Linked DNA regions of Homo sapiens: all the other regions are reported to be linked to region 2. The links are microRNA targets in miRTarBase. Many come from high-throughput screens and were not tested one by one. Region 2 holds a microRNA gene; each other region holds the end of a gene's coding sequence.

The links. The annotated mature microRNA hsa-miR-4276 reads CUCAGUGACUCAUGUGC and lies in region 2 at 3,519-3,535, shown strand. An mRNA with a match to its seed (bases 2 to 7 or 8) in the 3' UTR can be bound and repressed. Matches are read on the target gene's strand: a 7mer-m8 pairs with bases 2 to 8, a 7mer-A1 pairs with bases 2 to 7 and ends in A, and an 8mer does both.
Region 1: the mRNA of RCAN1 is a reported target of hsa-miR-4276. Seed matches in the 3' UTR shown: 7mer-m8 at 2,108-2,114.
Region 3: miRTarBase lists STARD13 as a target of hsa-miR-4276. Seed matches in the 3' UTR shown: 7mer-A1 at 5,113-5,119.

The regions. Positions count from the first base shown.
Region 1 is chr21:34,511,980-34,519,974 of GRCh38, reverse strand. It overlaps RCAN1 (regulator of calcineurin 1), which reads left to right. Exons shown (of 4, transcript NM_004414.7): 4 at 1,719-3,533. The coding sequence ends at 1,891. It overlaps KCNE1 (potassium voltage-gated channel subfamily E regulatory subunit 1), which reads left to right and starts at 7,765. Exons shown (of 4, transcript NM_000219.6): 1 at 7,765-7,948.
Region 2 is chr4:174,420,287-174,428,395 of GRCh38, forward strand. MIR4276 (microRNA 4276) reads left to right here and starts at 3,509; the gene lies at 3,509-3,578.
Region 3 is chr13:33,099,462-33,107,570 of GRCh38, forward strand. It overlaps STARD13 (StAR related lipid transfer domain containing 13), which reads right to left. Exons shown (of 14, transcript NM_178006.4): 13 at 7,297-7,473; 14 at 3,676-6,249. The coding sequence ends at 6,132. Among named protein-coding and RNA genes, the nearest start is that of KL, 87 kb to the left of the region's middle.

The DNA.
Region 1 (7,995 bases), not on the chromosome of region 2:
AGCAATCCATCTGACCTCCCATGCCTGAATTCTCTCTCTCAGAGAGCTGAGCTCCTTTGCCTTTTTCAGTGCAGTTATAATAACATTCCAGTCCCACATGTGATAGAGAAAAGATCACCACCTTCCTTATCAGTAAAAGTACCTTCCAGGTTTAGAGGAGTAACCAGTGTGGCTGGAGGTAGGAAGCTCTCCTGGGCCGCTCTTGTCGGGCGGAAATCACACAGTGGTTGGTGCGGTGCCTCCTCGCTTACCCGAACTGCAAAGAAATCCCAAGCACAGGCCGGGCGCGGTGGCTCATGCCTGTAATCCCAGCACTTTGGAAGGCTGAGGCAGGCGGATCACGAGGTCAGGAGATCAAGACCATCCTGGCCAACATGGTGAAACCTCGTCTCTACTAAAAATACAAAAATTAGCTGAGTATGATGGCATGCGCCTGTAGTCCCAGCTACTTGGGAGGCTGAGGCAGGAGAATCACTTGAACCTGGGAGGCGGAGGTTGCACTGAGCCGAGATCTTGTCACTGCATTCCAGCCTGGGCAACAGGCAAGACTCTGTCTCAAAAAAAAAAAAAAAAAAAAGAAAGAAAGAAAGAAAAAGAAAAAAGAAAAGAAAAGAAATCCCAAGCACAAAGCCCTGGAAGAAAACTGACCATGAGGCCACACCCTGTGGGTGGAGCAGGTTGAAGCAAACCTCCTGCCCCTATTTCAGATCCCTGCCCAGCAGGGCACCAATAACGATGCAGTCTCCATTCTTAAACATCTTTCTAGGTGACATGGGCTGGACAAGCATGTGGTGAGCCGGGTTCTCATTGCCTCGGGCACTCACTCATGCTGTTAGCTCCATGAAGTCAATACCTTTACCGTCTCCTTTACTGAGGAGGGAACTGAGGTGCACAGGGAAGCAGAATAAAGTGCCCATGAGCCCTGGGTACTAAGGAGCCAGGCTCAGAGCTGCCTTCATGAGCACCAGAGATGCACACTCTTCCCGTGGCCAGAGCGGCACCCCAGCGGGAGGCCCCAGTCCCTTCATTCTACATTGCCGGGTTTTTCAGTTGCAGAAAGCTCTCCCCACCCTTGCTGGACCAGAGTGGCCTGAACTTGGCCAACCTGGTAGAACTCAGGCTGACATAGAACAGCAGGACACTCCTGGTCCCGGGGATTAGAAGTTGTTCTAAGGAAAAGATGCCCAGGTCAAAAACGTTTCCAGAGCACCTGGCTCCGTGCAGCCACCCCTGCGTCTGCTGCAGGGCCTCCTGTGGCGCCCTTCCTGGGCGTGCACTGCGACCCTCAAATAGGAGCTGCATGAGGGAGGCCCAGGGTTCTGTTTCCAAATACGTTTCTTCATCCATCTTTTTCCTGAACCGAAGTTTCTCACATTCACACTTGAGGAAATGCTGACAGAAAGGGAGTTCTCTGGGTAGTTTAGATATCTGGTGGACATGTGAAGTATAACTAGAAAAATGCATTCCTTCTATACTTCTCATGTGCCTGGACTCCCAGAATGTTTGACTAAAAACAGAGTCATGCACAATGGAAATCTCTCTTTTTCTGAATGAGCTAGCAAAGAAATACAAACCCAAAATATGTCTGGCTGTGTCTCTCAGCCCAATCGAATGGTCACGAGCAGCTGGCCCAGCAGAGCCCTGAATGCTCTTTTATGTTTGCCTTTTGACTCCCAAGGACTTGTCTGAGTGACCCTGCGATTATTTTCCCTCCTTAGGGGAAAAGTATGAATTGCACGCAGCGACTGACACCACTCCCAGCGTGGTGGTCCATGTATGTGAGAGTGATCAAGAGAAGGAGGAAGAAGAGGAAATGGAAAGAATGAGGAGACCTAAGCCAAAAATTATCCAGACCAGGAGGCCGGAGTACACGCCGATCCACCTCAGCTGAACTGGCACGCGACGAGGACGCATTCCAAATCATACTCACGGGAGGAATCTTTTACTGTGGAGGTGGCTGGTCACGACTTCTTCGGAGGTGGCAGCCGAGATCGGGGTGGCAGAAATCCCAGTTCATGTTGCTCAGAAGAGAATCAAGGCCGTGTCCCCTTGTTCTAATGCTGCACACCAGTTACTGTTCATGGCACCCGGGAATGACTTGGGCCAATCACTGAGTTTGTGGTGATCGCACAAGGACATTTGGGACTGTCTTGAGAAAACAGATAATGATAGTGTTTTGTACTTGTTCTTTTCTGGTAGGTTCTGTCTGTGCCAAGGGCAGGTTGATCAGTGAGCTCAGGAGAGAGCTTCCTGTTTCTAAGTGGCCTGCAGGGGCCACTCTCTACTGGTAGGAAGAGGTACCACAGGAAGCCGCCTAGTGCAGAGAGGTTGTGAAAACAGCAGCAATGCAATGTGGAAATTGTAGCGTTTCCTTTCTTCCCTCATGTTCTCATGTTTGTGCATGTATATTACTGATTTACAAGACTAACCTTTGTTCGTATATAAAGTTACACCGTTGTTGTTTTACATCTTTTGGGAAGCCAGGAAAGCGTTTGGAAAACGTATCACCTTTCCCAGATTCTCGGATTCTCGACTCTTTGCAACAGCACTTGCTTGCGGAACTCTTCCTGGAATGCATTCACTCAGCATCCCCAACCGTGCAACGTGTAACTTGTGCTTTTGCAAAAGAAGTTGATCTGAAATTCCTCTGTAGAATTTAGCTTATACAATTCAGAGAATAGCAGTTTCACTGCCAACTTTTAGTGGGTGAGAAATTTTAGTTTAGGTGTTTGGGATCGGACCTCAGTTTCTGTTGTTTCTTTTATGTGGTGGTTTCTATACATGAATCATAGCCAAAAACTTTTTTGGAAACTGTTGGTTGAGATAGTTGGTTCTTTTACCCCACGAAGACATCAAGATACACTTGTAAATAAAGCTGATAGCATATATTCATACCTGTTGTACACTTGGGTGAAAAGTATGGCAGTGGGAGACTAAGATGTATTAACCTACCTGTGAATCATATGTTGTAGGAAAAGCTGTTCCCATGTCTAACAGGACTTGAATTCAAAGCATGTCAAGTGGATAGTAGATCTGTGGCGATATGAGAGGGATGCAGTGCCTTTCCCCATTCATTCCTGATGGAATTGTTATACTAGGTTAACATTTGTAATTTTTTTCTAGTTGTAATGTGTATGTCTGGTAAATAGGTATTATATTTTGGCCTTACAATACCGTAACAATGTTTGTCATTTTGAAATACTTAATGCCAAGTAACAATGCATGCTTTGGAAATTTGGAAGATGGTTTTATTCTTTGAGAAGCAAATATGTTTGCATTAAATGCTTTGATTGTTCATATCAAGAAATTGATTGAACGTTCTCAAACCCTGTTTACGGTACTTGGTAAGAGGGAGCCGGTTTGGGAGAGACCATTGCATCGCTGTCCAAGTGTTTCTTGTTAAGTGCTTTTAAACTGGAGAGGCTAACCTCAAAATATTTTTTTTAACTGCATTCTATAATAAATGGGCACAGTATGCTCCTTACAGAAAAGTTGTCATTTTATTTCTAGAATAAATCTGTGAACCTTCTAAATTCTGCAGTTTAAAAGGCTTTTAAACCTTTTTAAACATTTTAAATTCAGAAGGAGACATCCTTTGTCAATTTGAGCTTAGAAACTCCTAATTCTGTGCTGTGGTTCATGGAGAGTCCACCACACTAAGAATGCATCACTTGCAAAAGAAGAAAATGGATAAAACTGAAATCAGAACTTCGAGTATTTCGTTTGTACAGGTAGATGCTACTGTGATGAAACCCCTGTTCACCAGCACCTCCACAAAACAGCAATGGTTTTGGTCATTTGAAGAGCTTTCTTTTCTATTAGAAAAGATGTCCATGGAAGATACTAAGTTATCTTCAGAAGATGCATCTGTAAGCCTTCTGTTTAATCTCTGGCAGCTTTTCCCCTGAAAGTCTCATTTCAAATGGTGGTGACCTTCCTGGGAAGCCCACAAAGGCCTAAGTAACCCAGTGTTTATTTGCTGAAATCTAGGAAATGACATTAATCCTGATCAACATTAGCATTAGGCGTTTATCTATGAAAATTCACATGCTACTTTTTTTTCTCTGTCTTGAGAACCATGATCCTGTCATTTCCAAGAGTATTTGCACATTTTCAAGCCATATATGTTCAAGGTTTAATCGTGCTGGAAAATCCACACTTCCACCAAGTTGGTCAAATCTGATTATTGGACAGATTCAGGCATTGACCCCCACTAAGGACAGGCAGGAAATATTTCCAAATAGAGACTCTCAACAGGTCCCCTTAGATAAAGGAGGGAAAAAGTCAGTGGTCCCACTGCCAGTGAAGCCAATAGACCTTAGAATAGAAAATACAAGTCAAGGAAAAGGCTCACTCAGGACAGCCTATTTCTTCTGAGTTGTTCTGTGGAAGCCTCAGCTGAAATTGTAAAACCAATAATGCACAAAGTTTCTGGTTCCCAGGCTGATGGGCCTGAAAGTAATTGAATCATGAATGTGCCCAGGACCCACGCATTGCTTTGTAGGAGAGGGGTTCAGTCAAATGTGAAACAACCGACATTCAACAGGCAGCATCATGCAGGATGCACACTTTGCCATTGATTGAAAGTGTTTCTTCAATAGGCTTTGATAGAATATGTTACTAATCTGATGGGAAACAGCTTAGGGCCATGCAAAAAAAGAAAATCAGCCCCTGGAAATGAGTGGCTAAATCAAAGCGAAGGGCAGTAGAAGGAGAGGAGCGGAGCAATTCATGGAGCTATTCAGACACAAGCTATAAACATTGATTTGAAGTCAGCAGGCATTTGGGATTTTACATTTCCAGAATATTGTGTGTGAATTACTGCCCACAGAAGATTTGGGTTTTCAGAGAGCTTTAATTTTCTGTGAAATGTGCAGAACTCACTACAAAATAAATCGATTTTCTCATATGTTAAGTTGCAGGAGATTAAAAGCACTCTATGGACGTGTTATGATCAAAAGTGAACGCGCAGCCAAAGTCTGTCACACTTCACAGTGCCCGTAGAACCCGCAGAAAGTTTGCCTGGGTATCATAGGTACATATCCAGTAACATTCACCCAAAGGTCAGTGACTCAGGTGGAAGCTGCATACATAATTACCCTAAAAATTATTCAGGAAGAAGGTCCACTATGAATAACAAGTACTCTTCCCTCCTGCCTCTCTGGCCTCCTGATTCTAAAGTAGAACAGGGAGTAGAACGTGGAGGAAACTTTTCAAGTATATCACCACTCTTGGCAATCCTTAATTCACATCTGAAATTCTCACTCCGTGACTCACCGAAAGTTACATGGCAATCAGGTAGATGGATTTGCTTCTCACATACCTCATTTTCTTCCACAATCCTTCCCTGCTGTTCGTGAAAGGTCATTTCAATCATAGCTATGTTTATGAAAGACAGAAGGAAATTATTCACAAGTGATTGAGGTGTGCTGCCTGTGCCCACCGTTTCTCCTTCTTTCAGGATTCTGATGAGGGACTCGGTGACCCTTCTACACAGCGAACGAGTGCCAAGTAGATGCAGTGGCCACTGCTCAAATCCCTCTTTCAAGAGTGTCAGGGCCCTCCTGGCTGACATTTGTACTCTGGCAGCGCAGACTTTTCAGTGTTTTTAACTTACCATGTTGTCTTTTCTCTGCCTAGAAAATGATCTCATTGTCCCAGCCCAGCCCTGCTAACCCCACAATGAGGTCCACGAGGTCCTGCTCACCCCTGTTCAAATTCCAGCAGCTACCTCTGTGCCCAGCCACAGAACATGTTTCTAGGGGCTGCTTTTCTTTTCTTGAGTGGCCCTAAGCTGTTTCTTACCAGATTAGTAATATATTCTATCAAAACCTACTGAAGAAACACTTTCAATCAGTGGCAAAGCGTGCATTCTGCACAGTTCTGCCTGTTGAATGTCGGTCATTTCACATTTTACTGAACCCCTCTCTTACAAAACAACGTGTGGGTCCTGGGCACATTCATGATGCAGTGACTTTCAAACCCATCAGCCTGGGAACCCAGAAACTTCTTGCATTATTGGTCACAATAAGCGCTACTGAAATGATTGACTCTTTAATATTTCTCCTGCAGGTGTCTATTAGGAATGTCTCTTCCCCCTAAGAATCGTTGCCAGCTACTCCCGCTGGGTCTCCCATCATGCCCCCTTCTTTTCCATTGTATGGCATATTTTCTTTTTTATCGTAATTGTTAAATTGTTTGTCTTCCCTGTTGAAACATAATTTGGGTGGAAGTGGGATTCCTGGTAGCCAATGGCTCATAGTAGACGTTCAACACGCAAGTGGATTGGATAGATGGAAGGATAGATGGGTAGATGGAAAGTTGGATGGATGGATGGATGGATGGATGGATGGATGGATGGATGGATGGATAGGGATTTTGGAGGAAGAGGAGTGAGCAGTCACTGAAAAGAATAGAAAAATAATGAGGCTTGCTCCCTCTCCCTAGTCAGAAGAGCCAGTAAGCAGCTTAGAGCTTTAATCCCACAAATTGTCAGGCAGCTGGCGCAAGAACAGGGAAAAAGAGAGAGAGAGAGAGAGAGAGACCCTGTCTGTGGTAGGTTATGGTCATCAGTGAAAAAGAACAAAAACCTTTGTTTTAAAACTCTCCTCAAAACAGATGATTGGCTAGAGGGTGCGGCACAAAGGAACTTGTCAGGGTGATGGAGACATTCTGTATCTGGATTGAGCAATGCAAGAACCTGGGTAAAGACACAGTCATGGTAACAGCTGTATACATCTGTTGAAAACTCATCAAACTTATCATATTTAGAAAGGGTACATTTTGCTTCATGTAAAGTATGCCTCAATAAAGTGTACTTGATTTTAAAATCAGGATAAAGGAAAAAAACATTGATCTTGGATAATGGGCAGGGGTTGGGGAGAAGGTCTTAATTATCATCATATCCTTTTAAAAACGTTTTTCAAGTGTGTGATGCTCTGATGACATTCTTAAGACACAGCAAGGCAAAGCAGTATCCCAAATGAGAGAGTGAGCATTCCAATAAATATTTTCTGTAAGACACTGATATGTCTATGACTATTTGCTAAATTTAAAAATCAACTTGGACCATATTTACTCCCTTAAAGTCTAATAGACGACTAATTTCTTCTATGTTCAGAACAAATATGTTGCTACTTTAAGAACAGCATACATAGGTGTGGTCGGCCCTCTGTGTCTAAGGCTTCTGCATCTGTGGATTCAACCAACAATGGACTGAAAATATTCCAAAAATAAAATAAAATTAATGAAACAACAACAAAAATAAAACAAATAAAAAAATGCCAGGTAACAACTACTTACAAAGCATTTACATAGTATTAGGTGTTAGAAGTAATCAAGAGATGATTTAAATCACCATCTATGATTGGCTGATATGCATAGGTTATATGCAAATACTATGCCACTATATATAAAGGACTTGAACATTCGCAAATTTTGGTATCTGCAGGGGATTCTGGAACCAAACCCCATGGATACCAAGAGACAACTATATATAAAATACTGAAAGAGGCATGGAGAGTGATTTTCAGGCCTCTACCTAAAGCCCTGAATATTAGAAATTACTGAATTTCTTCTCAGGAAGGAAATTACGCCATAAACCAGTGTTGCCACACACCCAGAGAACAAGATGACCCGACGCCCCAGCCTGGTCATGCCACATGAGCTGAGCAGTGGGTAGGCCACTGAGCCAGTGATAGAAATCACAAATTACAAAACGTCAGAGTACTTTCTGGAAATAAGCCTTCCTCTCCAGGGAACAACGCATTTGACACTTGACTGGGATACACTACCGGATCCTCCGAGGGTGATGGTTCTCAAGAAGGCAGAAGCAATGGTGACCAATAGACCTCCTTAAAGGCTGAGCCGCTGGGCACCTTCCTACTCCTCTCGACCGTGCTAGGATGACTGCAGCAGAGTCCCCGAGTCCTTTGATGCAAGGGTCTAGGTGAGTTCGAAGGAGAGCCATACTAGGCCAGGCAGAAAGGCCCATGG
Region 2 (8,109 bases):
TCCTGTCTCTCAAATTTTTTTCCATCTCTCTTCTTCTTCCTGCCACTTCCTTGGTTATGTTTTCTCATCTACATTATTTCACAAACCACCTACCTTATCTTTTGGCCTGCAAACCAGACCATACCCTGTATGCTCAGCGTATCCTCTACGCTGCGGGAAGAGTGACAGCAAGAAAGTTAAATGCTGATTTTATCACCATGATTCTTCAAAATCCCTCAACTCTTTGCAAAAATAAAAGATAACACCCATTGTCGGTAAGCATGCTAGAAAATGGCATCTCACATGCCATCATAGGCATGAAAATTGACATTTTTTCAGAAAGCGACTTGCCTCTATACCAAACCCTTTCAATAGTACTTCTTGCTTGACCCAGCAGTGCCACTTACATGTATAATCCTGAACTAAAGGAGAAAATGTGCTCTGGATTTCTGGCAAAGCTTCCTTTAAGAGCAAAACCCTTTTTCAACAAGTGGTCATACGCTAGGAGAAAAACAATAGGAAATAATAATAATAAAAAAGAGAACTACCTTTACTGGTGCCAAGAGTAGAAAACAACAATCACATACCATAAAATCAAGGAAATATCATCCAAATCTAGGGAAAATTTAATTATCCAGAAGGCACCAAGACTGAGAAAAGAATGCATCATTGTGGAAAATAAGTGGAGAACATTTTGGTGACAGTTGGGAGAAGTATCGTTGGTCCCAGCTGACTTGGGGGACAGTCTCATTTGCTGCCCATGGCCTCAGATCAGTATCACTGCAAGGCTGTTAGAAGCACGGCTGTGGAATAAAGCATGTAGTCAAGCCACACAATTCTTTGCTGACAGAATTTGAAGTAGGTTTAATTTTCTTCTCTATGTTTTCCCCATTTTCAAATTTCCAAAGATGAAAAATTAATTTGACAGCAAAAAAACAAAAAACAATAAAAATAATGGTGGCTTCTTAATTCCTTATTTTAATGGGCAAAGTTATTCCCTCTCTGTTTATACTCCAGATATTCCACATGTGCTAAAACATTTAGAAATCTTCTAAAATACGATATGTTCTTTTTCCCTTCCATATCTTTGCAACTACTTTCCCCTGCAACCGTCTAGGGAGTTCCTTGTAATTATATGTCACTCAACTGAAAATTTACCTTCTTTATGAAATATTCTGTGATGTCTGTGTGCATGATTACATATTTCCACTTTTGTGTTCCCACTGTACTCTGTCAGCATCTAAGTTGTGGTACTCACCACACCAGTAAATTTCTGTGTACATTTCTCTCTCCTGTACCATGAGAGCTCTAGGACTGCAGGAATTGTTATTTTAAACTTTGTATGGAATTTAGTAAATGCTTATTGAATCAACTCATAAGAAAATTGGATGCTAATATTTTACTTTCTTCAGTTTCCTCATTGGGTTTAGTGGAGAAATTTCTCACAATATTGCCTGAAGGACAAGTTTGAGTACAGGTACATTATTCTTACATATTTTTTCTTTTTATATTTGTCATTATATGTCCATTTCCAGTGAATAAGTGTTTAATTACATTTGTTCATTCCATATTCACATTCCATTTACTGTTCAGAATGTGGAGATCATGTTTCTTGTGTTTGACTTGCTTCACACATGGGAGAAGTTGCATGCATGTGAATTCACTTAAATTATTTCACAAAGCAGAAGGGCACGGTGGCTCATGCCTGTAATCCCAGCACTTTGGGAGGCTGAGGTGGGTGGAACACTGGAGGTCAGGAGTTTGAGACCAGCCTGGCCAACATGGTAAAACCCTGTCTCTACTAAAAATACAAAAATTAGCCAGCATCGTGGCACAGGAGCTGCCTGTAGCCCCAGCTACTCAGGAGGCTGAAACAGGAGAATCGCTTGAACCCAGGAGGCAGAGGTTGCAGTGGGCTGAGATCGTGCCACTGCACTCCAGCCTGGGGGACAGAGCAAGACCATGTCTCAAAAAAAAAAAAAAAAAAAATTCACAAAGTGATGACTGCATTTTCATTCCATCAAAAATAAAAATTATTAGAGTTACTAATTGTATTATTTATCAGATGTGGAAGCAAAAGGATTTTCAATTCACTGTGCAGAGGAGGTATGCTTATAGAGACTCAAGAAAACAATCTGATTGTTTTAATTTTTCTCTAAGCTCGCCTGCCAAAAAAAGAATTCTGATCTGGCTCTTAGATTTTAGTAGATTAAATTTATGGAAAACAGGAATATGGTCCTATGCAAAATGTTCCGGTAAAAGTTTTTATGCTGATATTGAGTGAATTTTAAGCTTATTTAGTCTAAAGTAAAACACTAAGTTTTTTCCAGAACCTCAACTAAACCCAAATATTTGGAGAAAAAAAAGGAAGCAAAAACAAATGTTCAATTGTATGACAGAAGTTAATTTCAAAAATGAATGATGAAAGATGTTGACTTTTTTCTGTTATAACAACATATAACATATAATATTATAGCAGTAATATTATAATGACATAATTGTTTTCATTTCTTTTAACAAAATCATTAAATTGGTCCTTTCCACGCTTTACTACAAACTCTTTCAATTGTCTTCCATTTCTTTGACAAGCTAGAAGGGTCTAGATGTTTCTCATGTGGTGAGCCCTGTCAAACACTTTTAAGTTTGCATTTTTTTCCAGATAAATGTAACAATACCCATAAATCACACTTATTTGGATTCTTATCTAATATTGCATTGCAATAATTGGAAATAAGGCAAAAGCTTTTTGGAAGGTATGCAACACTTTACTCTCAAACCTCAGATAAAATCTAAAACCTGTGTGAGACTAAACTGAAAAGAGGAAGAGGGAAAGAAGGAAACATATTCAATGGAGGACACTGTGCTAAAATGTAATTTTACATTTCCATTGAATCCTATTTTATCAAAACCTGCATTTTTAGTTTTAATTTTGATTCATAGTGTGATTTGGGAATCATTGAAATGACACATGTTAAAGATTACAATACAAATAACACAATTTGCACTTCCAGTTTGCAGAATTTCCGATTTGGCAGTTTGCCAGCTCTTTGAATCTAAGAGAAACAGGGAAACAAAATTTCTGCAGAAGTGTTACTTCTTTCCAAAACATGATCCAGACATTCATAGAACCATTGAATTCGCTATTGCTATTCTGACTACCGGAGAAATACAACCTTTTTGCGTGTGTGTGTGTGTGTGTGTATATGTGTGTGTGTCATGTGACATTTGGCATTGGGGCTGGTGGAGGAAGATAAAACAAAACTGCATGTCTTGCCTGTTTTTCTGTTGAGTCTGACATCTGAGGTGTAAATTCAACAAAAATTAGACATCTCCTTAGATAAGATGACTCTAAATAAATATTCTATTTATAGTTCTCTGCTGACATAAATATAGCTTGCTTAATCATGCACGTATCCTGGAATATGTGTAAAGCCAATTTTGCTAAAGTGATTAATTTGTAGACTGTGTATTTTTTCTTATGTGTTCCTTGAGTCAATGAGTTAAATAATGGGATATGCTGTGGGCATGTCACAGTCTGACTCAGTGACTCATGTGCTGGCAGTGGCCACGTAAATAGAGCTACTGTGTCTGAAAGCAATGGGTAGCTAGAAACCTTTTTGACAGCTCATATGAAAACTTAAAGAATTTCAAAACAGGCTGGGTGTGGTGGCTCATGCCTGCAATCCCAGTACTTTGGGAGGCTGGGGTGGGAGGATCATTTGAGCCCAGAATCTTGAGACCACCCTGGGCAGCCTCGCAAGACCCTATCTCTGCATGTAAAAACAACAACAAAAAATTATAATAGTAATAAAAAAGAAGTTCAAAACGAAAAATATTTGCAAGGATTTTGTTTCTGGGTTTTTTGATTTTGTTATTAGATTTTTAATTAAAATAGAATAAAAACCTGAACTTCAAAATCAAGATCTGCTTATTTGGAAATTTTGTCTGTTACTCAAGTCTGTCCTTTTAATTTTTCAGAATAAATTAATATTATCTATTTCTAGATCTCCTACATTGCAGTTTCTTCCAGATTAATAACAGTATATTTAAAAATTATTTTTCAACAGAGCAGTGTACCTTTGCCAGGCTGTAGTCCGACATGATAAGATAATGGAATCGTATGTTAAGCAGACTATCATCTTGATTCCAAGAATTCATCTAGGAAAATTACTTAACAATTGATGATTTTGAATTATTTATCCTGAGAGATTTTGCCAAATCCCAAAGTAAAAATCATTGGAATTACTAATAGTACTAGCAAGCATATGTACTACATAGGGTGCTAGGAAACCTACTAGCTTTCTAGCCTTGTTGACTAGGTTTAGAACCTCACCTCTGCCAGTTACAAACTACAAACTGTGTGAAGTTAGGTCTAAGTTCTTTACCTTCTTTATCTTCAGTTCCTTATTTATAAATAGATAAAGTACTAATCATACCTATAGGATTTTTTAAGATCAAAAAACAGAATGCTATTTTTAAAATTTTCCTTACACCATACCTAGCATAAGTAAATCCTCAATTTATAGTAGTTTCTGCTATATTTTTAAGCTCATAAACAAAAGGACATGTTGCAGTTACACCTATTAATACTAGATGGATCAATAAAAACAGGTATTTTAGCAAATATAAAACTTCAATAATGAAAATCATATAATGACTGAAGAGTGTTAGTTTTATGATTTTTTTTCTTTTCTTTTATTTTCTTTTTTTTTTTTTTGGAGACAGGGTTTCACTCTGTTGCTTAGGCTGGAATGCAGTGGTGCAATCACAGCAGGGTCTCACTGTGTTGTCCAGGCTGGTCTTGAACTCCTGGGCTCAAGTGATCCTCCCACCTTGGCCTCCCAAAGTTCTGGGATTACAGGTGTCAGTCCCTGTGCCTGGCCAGTTTTGTTGTATTATTGTTGTAAACATTTTGGCAATACTGGGACAACTTAATTTATCAAAAATCAACAAAATGTTTTAAGAGCTCTGTATTGTTTTTGGCTCAATTAATTTGGCTTAAAAGCAAAAGATTGAGTTACCTGGATATGTTTAATTCTACCATAAACTTATTTCATAAGGATCTGTGGGGAAGCTTTGTAAATTTTTGTTTCCAGTTATCTAACTTCAGAGATTATTTTTTTAAAAGGAAAATATCAGAATTTTCTATTTTTAATAAAGTAGAACAAGAATTTTTTAAACGTTTTATTTTACCATAATTTCAAGTTTTACAGAGAGATTATCCGAATAGAACAAATGATCCTCATTTTATTCTTTACCTAGATTCACAAATTATTAACATTTTTGCTCTGGTTGCTTTATCATTTACTCTCTTAATAAACATTTTTTAACCTTTCGAACAGTGTGTGTTTCCTAAGAAAAACACATTCTCTTGAATAACTAGTAAAATTACCAGAGTAAAAAAATATATATACCATTTATATAATAGGAATACCTCTTCCAGAGCCAATATTCAAATTTAGTCCATTATCCCAACAATGTCCTGTGTTTTTTTTCCTGGTCTAAAATTTAACTCAGTGGTAAGAATTGTGCTTAATCATCATGTCCCTGGAGTGTTTTTAATCTAGATTAAATCCTCAGTCTTTTCCCTTATAACCTTGGCAGCTTGGAGAGTACCTGTTATTTTGTGGAATGTCACTCAGTTTGGGTCTGTCTGATATTTCCTCTGTTTAGAACCAGGTCATGCATGTCAGATAGGGAAACAGACATGAGACTGTACTCTTCTCAGCACATCACATCAGCAGGCAACATGATGCTGGTCTGTCCCATGATTGGTGATGTTAGCTACGATTGATTGGCTAAGATGGTTCTGCTAGGTTTTTCCACTGCAAATTTTTTATTTTCCCCTTAGTAATTTATAATTAATTTGTGGAGAGATACTTTGAAGATACCTAAATCTTCTTTATTCCCCAAACTTTGACCTACTCATTTAAGTACTCATTGATAATTTTTGCTTACATCAATTTTTATTGTAATAGTTCCAAAATGGTGATTTTCTAAGTCTACCATCCCTTCTACATTTATTAGCTGACATTCCACTTAAAGGGATAAGATTCCCCCAGTACTAATTTAGTTTTTGTTCATTTATTTAGATTTGGATGGATTAATTGATTCTTAGAGAACTCAATGATTAATAATCCATCACCAGGATTATTATCAGGACTCTTTGAGCTATCTCTTCCTGGGGTTGGCTTTAACTCAATTGTCCCTTATCTTTCTTGTGCATTTTTTCAGAACCCCTTTTCTTTGTGGGAATGACTTCAGAAGAGCTTCGAAAGTTAGCTATGCTGGAATTTGGTGCTTATTTTTATACCTATGGGTAATTTTCACTTGTAATATTTTTCTGTCTTCTAATTTTGCCAAAGGTGAGAATTTTGTGTGGTTTTATTCTTGTTGCTTAGAGGTTGTTTGAGGAGATTTGGGTTCAGGCAGCTGTTATTCATATACCTCAGCTGCTCAGGACTCTTGGATGCAAAGACTTTCACCATCTGGCTTAACAGTTCCTTTAACGAGGAGGAATCGTCTTGTTTGTAAACTAACGTGAGAAACTATATTTCAGTATAATGTGAAAACTTAACAGCATGGGTTATAAGAAAATAAAAATGAAGAAGAGCTATATTCTTTGTGAAAGTGATGAACAAATATTAGAAAAAGAGTCGTAGCCAGGCGCCGTGGCTGACGCCTGTGATCCCAGCACTTTGGGAGCCTGAGGCAGGTGGATCACTTGAGGTCATGAGTTTGGGACCAGGCTGGGCAACGTGGTAAAACCCCGTCTCTACTAAAAATATAAAAATACTGGGGCATGGTGGCATATGCCTGTAATCCCAGCTACTCGGGAGGCTGAGACAGGAGAATCGCTTGAACCTGGGAGGCAGAGTTTGCGGTGAGCCAAGATTGTGCCACTGCACTCCAGCCTGGGGGACAGAGTGAGACTCCGACTCAAAAAAAAACAAGTAGTAAAAAGAGTAAGAAAGAAGAGAGGAGAAAGAAACAGACATGGCCGAGTAACATAGCAGAGCAAATATCCATGGAGGAAAATGAACAGTAAGAGATTATTGAAGGCAGGTCAAATAAATGTAAACAGTGAGAAAGTATAATATTAAATTTTAAAATTTCAAAGGCCATGTAAATACATTTATGTATCATTTCAAATCATAAGGTAAATGTAACACATGAACAAATATTATGGGTGAGCTGTTTATAGGTTATTCAGAGGAATAAGGTTGCTTTTCATGTCCTGGTTGTCACAGAGCAGAGGGCAGGAGAATAGTTATAGGGGATCAGATGCCAATGACATCAGTAGTCTAGTGGAGGCAGGCAGGCAGAGCCAGAGTAACCATGAAGATATGAACCCCAAGGAATTCTCAGAAATGTTGATAAGGGTACTAGATTTCCCATAGAACATGGGATAGAGTTTTTGAATTGTGGGTTTAGAGGAAGCAGGCACGAGCTGCATGTAGTCTACACTGTGACTGAGAGATGGTCATTGCGCCATATATGTATGAACAGTCCAGGCAGGGTCAGAGAGCAACTCAAGTAGGTGGTATATAGCTGTCCTACAGGAAGGTGTTCCCTAGGAGGTCGTTGTGCAAGGTAGATATCTGGATCAACCACACTAAAGAATTAGGAGAAAGTGGGCAACTGGAAACTGTGTCAGGGGTGACTAAGCTCTGCTTCTAGTGTAAGTCCAACTTATATTTTGAAAGGATCGTGATGCAACATAACATTGTAAGAATCTACTACAGTATTACTTAAGTTTCAGTTTGTAGGCATAGTTTTGATCTTGTCATTCATCAAAGACATTTGTACTCATGTGAATGTTTTGATTTATTAAACATGCCTTCCTAATTAAGATAGTCCAACTATGCAGTAAATACTTGAATCCTACTATTCCTCTTTGTTTTGCGAGCATTCTCAAAATCAAATTCTTTACCTGTTCCTAAGATTTGTGCATTTATAAATGACCAAAGTCCTATGGTGTTTTGGGTGTATAATCTTCCCCTTTGCAGTTTTGGTTCTGTAATTGGCCTTCTGGAGAATACATTTATATATTCAACACATATCTGTGAAGTGCAGGAGTAATGCATGGAAAGAACATGTGAGGGATATATGTGTGATATTTTCCATGGA
Region 3 (8,109 bases), not on the chromosome of region 2:
GATCAGAGCTCATTTGGCCATCCTTTCTAACCTGGCTCTCTCCCTGCTCTGCTGCCCCCCACGAATCTGCTTCTCCTCTTCTTTGTCTCTATATCAGTTAAATAATTTACCACAAAGTTTTTCCAAGCTAGAAGATCCAGAGTCATTTTGAGATAATTCCTTTCCCCCACCATTTCAAAACAAGCTAGTATATAGATCTTATTAGTTCTATTATAGCTCTGAAATATGTTTTAAAAGCTATCCACTTCTTTGCCCACAAGCATTTTTCACCTAGACTGTTACAACAGTCTTTTAATTGGATTCACAGATCACTCTGCCCTTCATCATGCCAGTCCATCCTCAACAAAACCACTAGTCATTCAGGTTACCAACCCAAAGCATCTCCTTTGCACCCTCAGGGGCCCAAGCTAGCCAGCTAGCCAGGAAAGGACAGACTAGTCTGGCCTATGGGAAGGATTTTAGTTCCATGTCTTGGCCATGCTGGAGTTGTGGGCAGAGGCAAACTGACAACTCAAGCTTAGCTTCTGCCGATTAAAGACTTCCTCTGGCAGTGAGGAGGGGTTTGGGCTTAGCACTCACTCATCACTGGGATAAGCCTACCTCCTGTGACAAACAATGGGCATGATAACAAGAGAGGGAGGCATGAGCCTGGCAACCCAAACTTTCCTGCTGATTTGGGGTTTGTTCTTGGGGATCTCACCAGTAATCTCATCTTATCAGCTCTTGGCATCTTAGGATCATGTAACACCTGGACTGATCTGGTTCTCTCCGGGTCATGTGTAGCATCGAAGGTGTTATTTTGGTTTTAAAAGCATCTTCTCTGAGGTTAATCATATGAATGCCAAGTTTTCTGAAATATTCTACATTAAATAGGAGAAAGGAGTGAGTTATAAAATGAAAAGAAAGGGAAGTTATCATGGATTAGTTTCAGCTCAGGAATGGCAGGTGGTGAGACACCTCTAATACATCTAATGTGGAAACGGGTGAAGAACACTGGCAAAGACGGGTGTAACTTTACAACCCTGCTCCTGTGCCTAGTAATGCTCCAGGTCTGTCTTAAGTCCAAGTCTGTTTTACTGTTAATACTCCAAGTCTGTTTTAATGGATTCCAAGTCCATTTTAAATCTCTTTCAGCAAAACTAGTGCGAGTTCATTTCTCTGCCTCTTGGCTCTAGTTTGCTTAACAGATAAAGGCCAAGCTCTTCCAGCTCAGGTGAGACGTCCTGTCCTTTGACTCCCCTGGGCTCTTGTAGAATTCACAGTAATCTGTCACTGGGTGTTGTATGTATAGACCCTTCTCATTATTTGTGGATTCTACATTTGTGAATTCATCTACTCACTAACACTTATTTGTAACCCTCAGATCAATACATGCAGTGATTTTATGGTCATTTTTGGGCATTTTCAGAGTGTCAACAAATGGGAGTCACTGATGTGAATGCACATTCCCAGCTGAGGTCAGTGTGCTCGCTTCCTTCTTGTTTCGGCTCACATACTATAAATGTGCCCTTTTTACAGTCTATTAATTGCCATTTTTTTCAAATTTTTGTGCTTTTGGGTGGTAATTTCACTTTCCAAATGACCCCCAGATGTTGCACTAAAGTGCTGTCTAATGTTCCTAAGTACAAGAAGGCTGGGGGTATGCCTCATGGAGAAAATATGTATGTTAGATGAGCTTCGTTCATGCTTGAGTTATAGGGCTATTGGTGTGAGTTCATTGTTAATCAATCAACAATATAGTACATCCAGAAAAGGAAGTTCACCAATATGTACATGAGGCTGTTCTGGAAAGTGCTGAAGTGATATTTATAGTGCATGAAGAAACTATGGAAAAGACAGAAAAACAGCTAAATTTGTGGACTCATAAAATGACAACTGATTTTTAAAGTGTAGTAAAAAGAGTACTGTTGAGAGGCTGAAAGCCCAAGAAATTTACAGTTATGTTACCCAGCATCAGGGAAATGTTAAATCCTTCTCTGCTAGGGTTTTATTATAAAGAAATACTGCAGATAACTAACTTATAAGAACTATATATTAAATAAGGTGTCTTAAACAGAAACACAATAAAACAAGGTTATGTAGTGGTGGGTTGACAAAAATATTGTGACCTGAGGCTCACAGGAACCTAATCCTGTATTTCTGCTAGGAGCAATGGTTCAGTATTCACTAATTCAGTGTTTGCAACAACTTTACAGAAAGGAACTACCACAAACAATGAAAATTGACTGTATATCACAGTTTCTGCCCCCACATTATGTCTTCTTTGTATTAACGCCTCTGCCTACTTGTGTCCCACTCTTATTCACTGTTGAATAAATGTGTGCTGAGTGAATAAAAGTCTTATGCAAGCAAGTTTTCTGCAGAGATACAATATTGCTGGGAATTTTGAGCCTCAGCTGTGCACCAGAAGGATATAAACTAGGTGACATCTAGGAGGCTGAAGAGTGGGATTATTAAAATGAAAGTAAACACTGTCTTTAAGAAAAACTACAAGGGATATAGTCTGCCTATGGAATGTCAAAAATTGTACATCATCAGTTGTTTAAACTTCATGACTTTGCAACATTCCAGTGTCACAAGGTCAGGTGTTTATTCACTGCTTGTGCAGTCAGCACACATTGACTTTGCGTTCGTATCAGAATGTGACACTCCATTTGGTTGGGGTCTGTTTTAAACCTTTACATTTATCTTCCTGAGAAGGAACCATATGTCCAGTTTTTCTGTAACCAAATATCAAAAGACACAGGTGGAACAATTTTATGTCTAAGAATTTCATGAAGAGTGTTTGGAATAATGTAAAAAACTTTTCTTTCCTTTTCAAAGTTCTTTTAGTTGACAAATAATAATTGTACATATTTGTGGGGTACATAGTCACTGCATGTTTTGATACATATATGGTGATGAGATCAGAGTAATTAGCAAGAATCACCTTTGAATTCATATGATCCATACTCTCAGGACATCTGTAGCCTGCGGCTGCTAGAATGACCATCACATTCTTTTCCTTCATGTAGAAGAGAAAAAGCGCCATTGAATTCCCCCTTTGCCTACTATGAAAGCAAAACTTGCAAGTAAGAGGGGAAGGTGTGCATGAGATAAGAGAGCAGAGTTGGGACAACTTTTGTAGGGGCATACAGTCTTCTGGGCTTCTGTGGCTTTGGAAGCCTGTGCCTGAGAATGTTTGAGAGCCCCGGCTTTCTTAAGGGCTCTCTGGGCTGATATTTAGAAGAGATGCTCAGATTTCAAGGGTAGAAGGGAAGAGATTTAGAGTCATTTGTGGCTACTTTTCATGGTCTAGTAGTGCGGCTGTAAGTCATTTCATCATATCTTGATTTCTTGTCCACTTAACAAAAATAAAATGTAGCTAAAGAGTTTACTAAACCTTTGATAAAAATATTATGAATATGAAAAAAATTATGAATTATAACTTCTAGATTTAAGGACAATGAAATTTAAGAAAAAAAAATCCCCACCCATCACTTTAATCCCTTAGATCCAGGTTAAGGCACCCAGCCTGATAGTGAATGTCTGTTGACAACAACTTCTTTGTATTTGAAGACAGTATTGACTACAGATGGTACCAAGGAGTCAAAGTCATGGCAGGCTATCTTGGGAGAAATCTTCCTCATGAAGCAAATTTTCCATTTAAAGATGAAGCATGAAAATCAACATCTATTTTATAGAAAATAGGAAATATTTAATATATATAAATTTATTTGCCTTGGCAATTATTTATTTACAATTGATGATTGATATCAACAATTGAGGTAAAAATATACATGAGGTATAAATATAATATTTAAATGCAATATCATACTTTATTTCCATTGGCAAGATAACAATGAATAAAATACTGTGGTATTTGACAAACAAGCTTGATGCATCGTTTTTTCTCCTTTTTTTCCCTTTTCCTTGTTTTAAAAAGATGCACTGTGTTGTTATGCAGCGGTGATATGATTACTATGTGCACAAAAACAAAAAAGTCAGATAATTCGAAGAGAGGGAGAATCAGAAATACAATCACATTTGTTCTTATTCTGTTTTAGGGATCTTCTAGGTCCTCGTTTCTGAGTGTGGTTTTAGGCCAGCAGCATAGGCATCCCTGAGACTCCTTAGAAATGCAGAATCTCAGGCCCAGCCCAGATTACTTGGAGCAGAGTCTGCAGTTTCACAAGATCCCCAGGCAATTCATGTGCATGTGAAATCTGGACAAGCACCTCTCTGGGCGATACAAAGCCACTCATCCTCGTGTGCCTATCACGTTTTCCAAACACATAGGATCCCATCTCAGGAGCAGGACCAGTGTTTAGCTAGATTAAACTTCACTGGTGATCTTGTTGATGCATATAAAGTAATCTGGCATATATGGTTAAATTCAAGATGTTATGGCAGAAGTGACTTTGTTTTGCTCACAAAGCATTGCCCAAAAGGTAAATTATGGATTTACTGCTTCCTTCTTAGGTAGATATGGGAATGAAAAATTTCTAGGTCATAATTCAAACTGTAAGATTTTCCTCGCACCATACCAAACTCATAGAAAGCTTTTTTATTCCTCTCAATAAAATAATTGCACATTGCTGATAACAGAAACATTACATAAATGCATATAATGCAAAAAAACCTGAAAACACTCATTTGCTTTTCTTTTTTTCTCCAACACCAGTTGCTAAATCTTATCAATCTCTATTATGGATGACCAAAGAAAATCTCTCTCCCTGAAATCAAACACACAATAAGTTATCTTTCTCTCTATAGCTGTTGAATTACAATAAAAAGCACATTCGATCCATTAGCAGTTGGCTAAAGGGAGTCAATTCGCTTCATCTGTACAATAATAAATAAGGTTGGGTCAAATGCATAGGTAGCTTGGACTGGCTAGTGAAGAAACACAGAAGAATTAATAAACCCGATTATACTATCTAAAACTAATCAAAGAACATAGTTTTGGTCTCATGTTAGTTAAAAACCCTGTCTTTCAGATTGTAAAAGTTTAATGAATTACATTTTAAGAGTATCCTACACATAACAAAATATGAATTCCCTGAAGCTGTAACGATCTAGGATTTGAACGGAATGGCCATCATCTCCCTTTGTATGGTGTCTGGAGTTGAATTCAGTGCAATAAGAAAACACCAATTAACTGTGACCAAATAGGCCACTGGTCAAATAGAATGACATTTAATAACATTATGAAATGTATTTATAAAAACTTGAGACAACACAGGGGCTCCCTTTGGCTGTGAAGAAGTAAAGGCTATGATATTCATCTTGACTTGGGGTCTGTAGTGATGGGCATGGGAGCGAGAGGTATCGCTTCTGTTTCAGTCACTCTCGCTGACTCCGGTGGTCCATATCTCACTGAAATTCCATCTTACTGGGCCCAGTGGCAACTCCTCATCTAGCTTTAAATTTGGTAATGACTTCTCACCCCCCCATTTGCTTTAAGGAGGAGTAATTATTATTTCCTTGCTTTATCCCAGATCTCCACTCTCAGTTTTTGAATAGCAGAAACAAAGCGTTAACACATAAGTCTCCTTTAATGTTATTTTCCTTTGGTTAACTCATCTTTGGTTAGGCATCAGGGCATGTTCACACCTTGGTGTTAGCAGCAGGTTCTGCACAGCTTACAGGACAGTGGAGAGATGGGGCCCAGAGCCACTTGGAAAGAACTGTGTGAGGAAGGGACTCACTGAGTCAGACACCGTCATTTTCAAAACACACAATTCTATATAAAATTGGTATTTTACATATATACAGTAAAGATGGAGATATACACACATATGTACATATGCTATACATACATTTATTTACAGTTAGGTATACGCTTCTTAGAAGCCTTTAAATAGCAAATTAGGCAATGCACAAGGAATAGTCCATTTAATTTTAAGTAATATATATAAAGTTCTCATTTTAAAATTATATTAGTAGGGATGTAGCCATCTCCAGGAAGGCTAAGAAAGTTCTTGGAAATTCTTGCATCTCCAACATTCCAACTTCTTAACGTTTCCATTTTTAGGCATTAACCGCGTCCTTCAGTTCCTCTTTCTCTCGCTTTCTCACATGCACACTCTCTGCCACACTCGTCACTTTAGCTTCCTCTTCCCTGAGTTTGATGTCACACTGGGCAAAACTCAGATTTTAGTTTCTGGGCCCTCAGCAATGAGGGGCTGGAAAGAGTTTCTAATCCTGGCAACTTCTGCTGCACACAGATGTCCAAAGCCTTTGCTGTACCATTCTGGGGAGTGACCTCTGTGGGGAAAGAAATCAGAAAGGAAGTGGGAAAGTTTGTTTCCAAATCACAGCAATTAGTTTTGGTGGACAGGGCTGCCCTTGGGCCCCGATGACCAGTGAACCTGCAGACAGCTCGGGCTGCTGCCTTGAGGGGCTCAGGACGTCATTCTGCCATCAGGGGCCTTGAAAACGTCCTGGCTGCTAAGTATTCATGTTGTCATTTGAGTACTCATCAGGTGCTTTAAAATGATACCAACATCTTGGGGTAAAATGAAAAGATTCAGATGAAATCCAGAATTTACTGTGAAAACTCCGTTTTGTCTACCCAGACCAAGAACTGGGTTTAGCATCATGAATGCCTTGAAGGGGTTGGATGTAAGTTACTTACTTCTCAAAGAACTACCAGAGGGAGCAGCAAAAGGGGACAGGCATAAAAGAAATACATGGTCGAGCACGGTGGCTCATGTCTGTAGTCCCAGCACTTTGGGAGGCTGAGGTGGGCGGATCACCTGAGGTTGGGAGATTGAGACCAGCCTGGCCAACATGGCGAGGCCCTGTCTCTACAAAAACATACAAAAATTAGCTGAGTGTGGTGGTGGGCAGCTGTAGTCCCAGCTACTGGGGAGGCTGAGGAGGGAGGATCACCTGAGCCCAGGAGGTGGAGGTTGCAGTGAGCCCTGATGGTGCCACTGCACTCCAGCCTGGGTGACAGAGTGAGACCTTGTCTCAAAAAGAAACACAAGAGAGGGAAACTCTGATTTACTGAGTACCTACTATGTGTCAGGCTCTGTTTCTGGTGTGTGTTTCATGGGAGAAAGACAGAAATATAAGTAGGCATAAAACAGAAAATAAAGAAAGACAAACAGTTGCAGGAGAAATGTCAGAATTTCAGGAAAGGGGGAAAGACAGAGGGGAGGCATACATATCCACCTATGAAAGCACACTAATGGCAATGAGGAAACAAATACAGTGAAATAAGAAATCAGGGTGACATCCCTGCTGGATGTGCTGTACAAGCTGAGACTCCCAAGATCTGAGCCTGCCATTAAGGGAGTCAGCACTTACTTCAGGTCTATCCTGCAGATGTGAGTCAGTCTTGACTTGCCAGAGCCACACGGTTCTATCAAGTACTGCGAGTCCATCACCACTGCTCGCACACCACCCAGGAGCTGGGCTTCCTCATGCTCCACGGAGAGGGACACCAGGGTACACATTCCTTTGGGCAAATCAGTTTTCCAGGTCCTGTAGCAAAACAATCCGCACATCAGAGTCATGACTGAGGGAGGAAGAAGAACCTGAACACAGAGCTAAGGTTTGTGTTTATATTTTCCTGCCAACAACCTGGGCTCAGATTCCAATGCTAGTGACTTGGATTAAGCTAATGGCTTTCATAAGCTTGTGTAAAGTTTATACAGAGAATTTCAAAGCAAGGATCTCAGCTCTGGGACTGTGAGGCCAGAAATGGTCTTGCAGCTTTCAGATCTGCATCTGGAATCCCCAGCTCTGCTTAGCTGCAGAGGCTCCTGCCCATTCTCGAAGAGGTGGTTTTACAGTTTATTATTAGAACTCACTCATTCGATTCATTCAGCAGACATCAATTAAGCAGATAGACATGCCAGTCTCTGAGAAGCCACCAAGGACATAAAGATATACACAGCCCAGGAGGAAAAATACTGACACTCTAAACAGAATTCTAAAAGCACTGAGGTAAATGCACTGGTAAGATTATGCACAGAGGGCTCTGGGATCACATAGAGGGGGCTGCGGGAGGAATATGGAGAAGGCTTCCTGGAGGAGGGCATGCTCAAAGAGAAGTGAACTGGTACGCTTAGCTTGAAGGAAAAGAAACATATGTGGGCCTGCTTATTGTCTTCACAT